2 separate regions of the Homo sapiens genome follow, and region 1 is linked to region 2. The links come from fine-mapping of genetic effects on gene expression. A gene starts in region 2. The other region holds a variant in brackets. All regions are shown on one strand. Distances are from middle to middle.

What was found. PIP is the estimated chance that this variant, and not a neighbour inherited with it, causes the effect.
Region 1: its variant is the best candidate, but not a certain one, in a credible set for the expression of ASCC3 in esophagus mucosa (GTEx, PIP 0.82).

Annotation. Positions count from the first base shown.
Region 1 is chr6:100,849,880-100,854,109 of GRCh38, reverse strand. The region is part of intron 3 of ASCC3 (activating signal cointegrator 1 complex subunit 3); the gene reads left to right. Among named protein-coding and RNA genes, the nearest start is that of ASCC3, 29 kb to the left of the region's middle. The variant C/T (reference allele first, on the strand shown) is at 2,020.
Region 2 is chr6:100,879,288-100,883,517 of GRCh38, reverse strand. ASCC3 (activating signal cointegrator 1 complex subunit 3) reads left to right here and starts at 2,189. Exons shown (of 42, transcript NM_006828.4): 1 at 2,189-2,457. LOC107984041 (a long non-coding RNA gene) reads right to left here and starts at 2,061. Exons shown (of 8, transcript XR_007059692.1): 1 at 1,864-2,061. RefSeq lists an enhancer at 2,226-2,345.

The DNA.
Region 1 (4,230 bases), 29 kb after region 2:
TGTATCTGAGTTTTTCTGTAAAATTGAGGAAAATATTAGCAAGATTCATGAGACTAGTTTAGATATTGTACTTGTTTAATAATTACACTAATGGGAAATGAACAGGAATATATAGAGGGAAAAATTATGGGGACATGGTATATTTTATATTCAAGTTGAATCATTTTTGTATTTTGTTAAATAATGTACTTTGTTGTATCTAATGTTGTAGGTAAGGTCCTGTATTTTACATATTTGTAAAAGAAAACATCATCATACTTGCCAGATTCAAAAAAATCAGCTAATCTCTGAGGATTTAACAGGTCAGGGAACTCATTTGTTGACAACTTCTAAATTGAATACTTATTGGCTGGGTACAGTGGCTCACGCCTGTAATCCCAGCCCTTTAGGAGGCCAAGATAGGTGGATCACCCGAACTCAGGAGTTTGAGACCAGCCTGGGCCACATTGTGAAATGACTCTACAAAAAAATTTAAAAATTAGCTAGGCATAGTGGCGTGTGCCTGTACTCCCAGCTACTCAGGAGGCTGAGACTGGAGAATCACTTGAGCCCAGGAGGCGAAGGTTGCAGGGAGCCCAGATTGTGCCACTGCACTCCAGTCTGGGTGACAGAGCAAGACTCCGTCTCAAAACTGCACTCCAACCTGGGTGACAGAGCAAGACTCCGTCTCAAAAAAAAAAAAAAAAAAAGGAATATTTATCAATTATGGATGCAAGTGATTGATATTTTAATTCAATCTTTAATTAAAATTTTCTACTCATCCTTTTTCCAGGATTCCTCAACTATTAAAGTAGGCTACAGAAAAAAGTGACAACTTACAACCACTTAATTCTTAATATTTTGAATCAAAAGAAAACAGACGTAGATTGTGTGTTGAGGATGATTGACAATTGTAACCATTTAACTCTTTGATTTTAAAAAATTATTTTATAATCTTATAGTAACAATCTACCAAATATATCATTTTATATGGTAAGGTTCTATATAAGGTTTTTTAAGTTTGAAAATTATTTATAATAAAAGCGCACCAGTCAGCCAGCCAAGTTGAGTTCTGATCATGCTCTGCTACTTAATGGTGATTTTTGGCAAGCCTCTTTCACTTTTGACTTTTTTTTTTTTAATTCTGGGAAGTGCCTTATAGTTTACTATGCATTTCACATCCCATTTCCTCTCAATATAACTGCAAAGTAGGGTGAGTATTTCTTCTTAATAAAAGTATTGTAGGGACCTTCTAAGTGCATCCTTTTAAATATATTACAGTTGAAGTGCCAGGTGGGTAGAGCCAGTTTTCCGGTTTACAGCTTATGTTATTCAGTGTTTTATGGATACAAAGTTAGATACCCAAGTATGTAGGTTTCTAGAGTACCTTCTTTAAAAGTTTGGAGTTCTTAAGTTTTATATCAAGTCTTATATAAACTTTTCGTCAGTTGATTAGTGTATCAATTTATCTGTGGCCAAATCTAAACTTAAAATCCTGATTCCTCTTTGAAAGGTGACCACAGTGAGTGATATGAAGCAGACAGAAAAAGCTTTAAGAATTGGGTGCAAATGTTAACTTAACCAAAGATCATAAACCTAATCGTTTTTATTATTAAATTACATATAGAATATAAAGGGAAGTGAACAAAAGGCTATTTCGGAACAGGATTCTCACAGTTAATGTAACATGTTCAATTTTGGATTTAGTGTCAGAAAACAAGAACATGACTAACACCTTTCTACTTTAGAAGTGTACCACACGCGTTGTCCAAAGCCGTTCCATCTCCCCCTTCTGATGTGGCCAATTGGGTGGTGGTTCAGCCGGCTAATAGAGGTTCGCTTAGTGTTTCCCTTCCAATTACATTTTTGTTGAGGGTAAGTTGGGCCTTGGATAGCTTTGGCTAATTAGACAACTGACTGCATCGTTTTCTTCAGATACTTTGTCTACATTTTACAAACTTTTCATACATTTTAGTCACCCAAAAAACACTGAGTGGGCTGTACCAGCAAGCTGTGGTGCATCCTTTGCGGCCCCAGCAC[C/T]TGGGGTCCTTCGTCTGCTCCAATCTGATCAGGGCTCTCATCTGGGCAGCGTGCTAACAGCCAGTCTCTTACGCCTACATACGTCATCTCATGCGGACAGTGTGCTGGAAAGCATGTCGGTGCCTCTTAGGGAAGACAAGCCGGGGTGGTTGCCCCTTAGGGAAGACAAGCCGGGGTGGTTGCAGGAAGATGGTGAAAGTGGAAGTTACCATCTGATGTTTTAGCGCCCTGAAAAAGTTCATTGTTTTCAGAATGCCGTAGTCATTATTTCTGTTGTGTAGTCATCCATGTTAACAAATAGTGTTGGCTGGTGGAACTCCCAGAACCGTAAGGCATATAGAGATTCTCTGTTGAAAAACTGTTCTGTGGTATGAACACGTGTCCATTTCACATAGGTTGTGCAGGAGAGTTAGTAATTAGGGTAGAGTATTAACATTTATGAAACACCACAACCCAGCAAGGTTTAAATTTTTTTAAGTATTTGTGATTTTTGAAATTATAGATTTAAGTTAATGGTTATTAAAAATTTGACACTCCAAAAAAGTTGATCTTTGTTGATGTTTCTGTGAGTCTACAATTATTTTCTCTTCAAACATGGGCTTATAGCTTTTTTACCCACTATTAATGGACTTTTTAAAGGCAAGATATATAAATCTGCTGCACTATATTTAGTGAATGTATATGGCTATATCAGAATTCAACCAGTAACCTAATAATGGATATTTAAGTTAATTACACTTTTACATTAGATAATAAGGCTGTTCTTCCACTATTTGATTTCTTAAGGTGACCTATTTATTTTTAAAATTTATTTTGTAAACAAGAATTAGAAATAAGTCTACTGTCTAGGAATTTACAGGGAATCAGTGTGACATAGGGGAAATAACTTGTTTAGGAGTTAGAAGACTAATGTTAATCTTGTTTAATGATGTAATAGCTGTTTGATCTTTCCCTAATTACTCAAATTCTGTTTCCATTTAACATCTATAAAATGGAGATACTTTTGTTAGGACAAAGTGAGATAATTATGTGAAAGTTTTTAGTAAATTATTATTTTTAAAAAAATCCCAAGATGCAAAGTGTTAGCAATACTATCTTTACAAAAAATGTGTATTTACAATGGTAGATAATGTTTGTAAATGTGAATTCCATTTTTGCTCAGACTTTAGTATCAGTTCTATCAACCCCTTTAAATTATCTGTAGAAGTACCATAATCCCCAAATTATCCAAATCCTGTTTTACAAGTTATAAGTAAAATGTATAGAATGAATAAATAAATGTATATAAATGCTATTGAATTAATTTAAAAGCACTATTTATAGATTTTCATATATTTTCTTAAATACTAAAAGAATAATTGTATGTCAGATAATTGTGTAAATTATAACAGTAAAAGTAGACTTCATACTTGAACAAATTGGAAATATACATTGTAAAATTGCTTATTTTCCTACCTATAAACTGTTAATCTTCTACACATGATTGAATAGCAGATAAAGTAAAAAGTGACTCAGGCAGTTTGATGTAGTATAAAAATACTAATCTGGTGTCAGTGAGGCCTGGGTCTAGTTTAAATCAACTAATCTTTGTGGAGCTACCTATTTGGGGCTAAGTACAGTGAGGAATACTACAGTGGTATTGTCATCAATACCATTGTATTTGTACAATGTACTCAACGTTGTACTCATCTTGAAAGAGGTAGTTGAGCTATATTCTGAAACATGGGTAGGATTTGAACAATCAGAGGCCTTGAAGAAGAATCAGTATGATATAGAAATAGGCATAGAGTGGGGTAGAACGTGGTTTTTGGTGAAGAAATTCTTTTTGGCTGGAGCAGGAAATATATAATAGCCAATAAGACTGGAAAATAAAATGCTGGGGTCAGCTTCTGGCAGTGTAGGAGCTTGGATCAAGCTATAGTAAGCTGTGGAAGATTTGTGAATAATGATACTGGAGTCATGTTTCCTTCTTTTTTTTTTTTTTTTTTTTTTGATAGAGTCTCAATTCTGTCACCCAGGCTGGAGTACAGCGATGCTATCTCTGCTCACTGCAACCTCCGCCTCCTAGGTTCAAGCGGTCCTCCTGCCTCAGCCTCTCGAGTAGCTGGGATTACAGGTGTGTGGCACCACACCCAGCTAATTTTTGTATTTTTAGTAAAGACGGGATTTCACCATGTTGGCCAGGCTGTTCTCGAACTGCTGACCTCAGGT
Region 2 (4,230 bases):
TCTCTTGAAAAAAAAAATGGGGAAACCCTGGGGACTATAAAGAGGACAAAGATAGCTCTTAGAGTTCAATGAAGTAAGACCATCCCTCAGTGTCCACAGGGGATTGGTTCCAGGACACTCCCACATACCAAAACCCCAGGATGCTCAAGTCCTTACACACAATGGTATAGTATTTGCATACAAACTATGCACATTGTCCCATATACCTTAAACCATCTCTAGGTTACTTATAATACCTAATACAATGGGAAATGCTATGTAAACAGTTGTTACATCCATATTGTTAAGGAAATAATGACAAGAAAAAAAGAGTCTGTGCGTGTTCAATGCAGACATTACCATTCTTTTTTTTTTTTTTTTTCAATTGTTTTTGTTCCAAAGTTGGTTGACACATATACAGAAGCCATGGATACAGAGGGCTAACTGAATTTCCTTCCAGGCCAGGACTATGTAATACAAATATGATGCAAGCCACCTATGTAATTAAAAATTTTCTAGAAGTCACATAAAAAGTAAAAATAAAGTTGAAATTAATTTTAACATATTTTATTTGATCCATTATATATTATTTCAACATGTAATCGACATAAGAATTACAATATTTTACATTTGTTTTCTAAGTCTTTGAAATCTGGTGTACATTTTGGACTCATTGCATGTCTCAGTTTGGACAAGCCACATTTCAAATGTCAAGAGACGTATTTAACTGGTGGCTACCCCAATGGATAGGGCAGTTCTAGGTAGTCTATTTTCAGTTCCTCTCTTCTCCCTTAAGCCTCTGGAACTGTGATGGGAATAATCTGTCATGTGAATTCCTAGCACTTATCAGCACCTCTCATTATCACTTGGCCTCCTTGCATTATTTATTTTTGTGATGCATTTGTCTTGTCTCATGAACTAACTTGTAAACTCTATGAAGTCCAGGACCAAAGACACATGTAATCTCAAGACTGGAAATATCTTTAACAAAACCATCAACTAATTATTCTGTTGATGTGTGGCTCCCCTGTACCAAGTCCCTATTAAGTGAGCTTCAGAATCTCCTTGAAGCAAAATTCTGTGGTTGAGGTATTCACACATGCTAAGGTAGGCAATTCTTTGGGTCGTGCTACAAGGGCATCTTCTTTTCAGGATCTTAAATCTGTTCCCTGAAGTTTGCATCACATGAAACAAATCAACTTCACATGATAGGTCATTTCATATTTGGAGAGAGTCCAGTAGTTTTCTCTCTTCTAGGTGAGTCCTGGAAGGTTTAATCAATCCTTCTTCACTTGCCCTGTTTTTGAGTTCTCGTCATCATTTTGCTCTTCCCTGATATAATGCCAGCTTGATTAAAGTCTTCAAATGCTGAACACAGCACTTCAGAGGTGGTCTGACCAGTAAAGACAATAACTGGATCACTATTGGCTGCCTCTACAAAACAGTTCTACCAGGCATCGGGGCACATTACCTTGAGGAAGCGGGAATGGCAGAAGAGAGCCACAACAAACATATTAACTCATACTATCTTTGCATTGTTGGCTTTTAGTCTAGAACTCTTTGCAGATAAACCACACAATTCTTTAGGTTAGTTTTTCTTCGTATCTTCCTATCTTTTCAATCGAGTTAGGGAATCTTTGGGCTTTCTGTTTTTGGAGGAGGTCTTCTGACCGAAGAGCCGACTTGCAGAGATCACTTTGAGGGAACTAAGCTGAGAATCCAGAAAGCTTATGGAAAACAGGCCTTGACACCAGAGAACCATGTATACTCTCTAGCAGCCAGAGGGCTTTGGCTGAAAACGACGATAGCAACTACCTGTTTCTTCATTCAAATTGCTCTCCTTTCCTTTACCTTTAATAGGAATTATTTCCTCCACATATTTACCTTACAGAGAAGGGCGGGGAGAAGACGCGGCAGACTGAAGTAAATGCAGGGAAAAAACTCACAGGTAGAGAGGTAGAGACGGCAGGCCTGGCCCGTTGCGGGCAGCCAGGGTAAAGTGGAGCGTCCCGCTCCCGCCCTGGGGCGCATCCTCGCCGCCGCCGGGACCTTCCGCCTCTGCTCCTCCGAACCCAGCGGACTAGAGGCTGGAGGCGGGAGGCGGAGCGGCGCGCGCACGCGGGCGGGGCAGAGGGCCCGGAGTCGACGAGTCGACGTGCCGACGTTGGCGCTGCAGCGGGGCGGTGACGTGTAGGCCGGCGCCAGCTCCACTCTGTCCCTCCTCGCCGGGTCTGTGCGTCTTTGCGTCTGTCTGTCTGACTGATGGTCCTCACACGCGGTTCCCTGTGACTGGGCGCGACCCCGGCAAGCGCGGCTTGGAGGGCGGACGGGGCGCGGCGATACAGCTGCCCGCTCGCATCTTTGGCCCTGCGCTCAGCTCCTCACCCGGCGTGGGAAGTTAAAGTAAAACCGAAAGGGAAGAAGGCGCGGTGGCAGGAGCTGACAGAGTGATGGGAAACGCGTGAGCCAGGCCGAGAGGTGAGGAGGTGGAGGTGGAGGTGGGAGGACGAGAAGGGTCGCCGCGGCCAGGGGAGCTGGCTGGAGGCGGGGACGGCGAGGCGGGCTACGCGACCCGCCAGAGATTCTCTTCCTGCCTCCGGGGCAAGTCCCGACCTGTCATCCTTTTCAGTGGCATGAGGTCGAGTCCGGGGTCTCGCAACAATACCGCCCATTCCTAGAGTTTGTAGGTGGGGTTGGGGATAGAAAACTTAACCTAAGCTACATATTGTCCAAGTGTTAAGCCACAACGTGACCAGATGAGGTTTTTCTGTCCCATGCATGGGTAATTTGTTTTCTTTTTTTCTGTTACAAAGCCTTGATAACTTCGTTTTCTTCACGTAGATTTGGGGAAAGAAATCTTCCTCATATTTTTCCCCCAACACACTGGAAAGTAAATAGGTAGCTGACCGTGATGGATTGTGGGTGAATTTCGCAATCAAGGAGCCTATAATGTCATTTTGAAATAAATAAATGTGTATGTGGGTGCTAGGGAGGTTTTGTGAGTACTGGGCAGTCATTTCAAATAGGTTTCTTATAAATTAACTTACTCATGGAATGCAGTGTGCTAATGGTATTTGCTATTCTTTGGTTTAAAAGAAGCATAATTCTAGGGGCTGGTAAAAGTTTGATGTGTTGTCACTTGTGCATTCAAACTCATGGTTACATTTTCTTTCTTTCCCTAGGTTAGGTGAGATTGACAGCCATTTTCTCCATCACCAGATTTTATGTTTCATAGATTGAAATCCTTTTTCTGATTCTCAAAGTTCTCAAATGTTGAGAATTAAGCTTTTGGTTTTACTATGGATTGTGCTCCAGTTTATGTTGTCTCTTTTTTTTAATGATGGTTATAATAGTCTTGCATGAGAAAAATGATCCTTAAAGATGCTCTTAAGCTTAGGCTAAATAATCCTATTTATATGAGAAATTAATTTTTCATGGTTCAGCTTTCTTGATCCCTGCTTAACAGTTTTTTGTCATTCATTCATTCAAGTCTTCCTATGTGTCAAACGCTGGGCTAGGCCTAGGAGAGCAAGAGAGAGACAGTCTCTGTGCTCATGAACTTTCTATAATCCAGCAGCCTCCTTTTAAGACAGAATCTTGACTAGGGTTCTTTCTCATGCCATGGATCTGTAGTTAACCAAAACAAAGCTTTTAAAAGAAAAAGTTATTGTCAATGTATATATGTAATTGGCATTGAAAGGGGAACAGATGATCTTGCTTTAACAGCATGATTTGATATTGCCTTTGATCAAAAAGTAGTATATGTACCAGTGGTTTGCCATTTCAGAAGAGTAAGTTTTTCTTTTTCAAAGCTTGTTTAAATATAAAGTTCACAGTTCTACCTCAGTTTCTACCTCAAAAAAAATAAATAAATAAAAAGCTTTTTCTTTTGAGGTAGAAATCAGTTTCTTTCCAGTCTTCACTTTGGTCTGATTGATCTCCTGTGTATCTCTGGAACCCCTAGGCTCAAGCAGTCCTCCTGCATCGGCCTCCCAAAGTGCTGGGATTACGGGCCCCATTTTGCCTTTTTGTATGCTAATGAATTGACTAAGAATTTTGTCTTAGCTAGCTGGCTGCTCCTAGTAGCTTCAGGATGGGGGCTGGTTACCAGAAAGGTCAAGGAATTATTAGAAGGTTGGGACTTTCATCCCCACCCCCTAACTGCTTAGGGAGGTGAGAGAGGGGCTGAAGATTAAGTTGATCACCAGTGGCCAAAGGGTTTAATCAATTATGCCTATGTAGTGAAGCCTC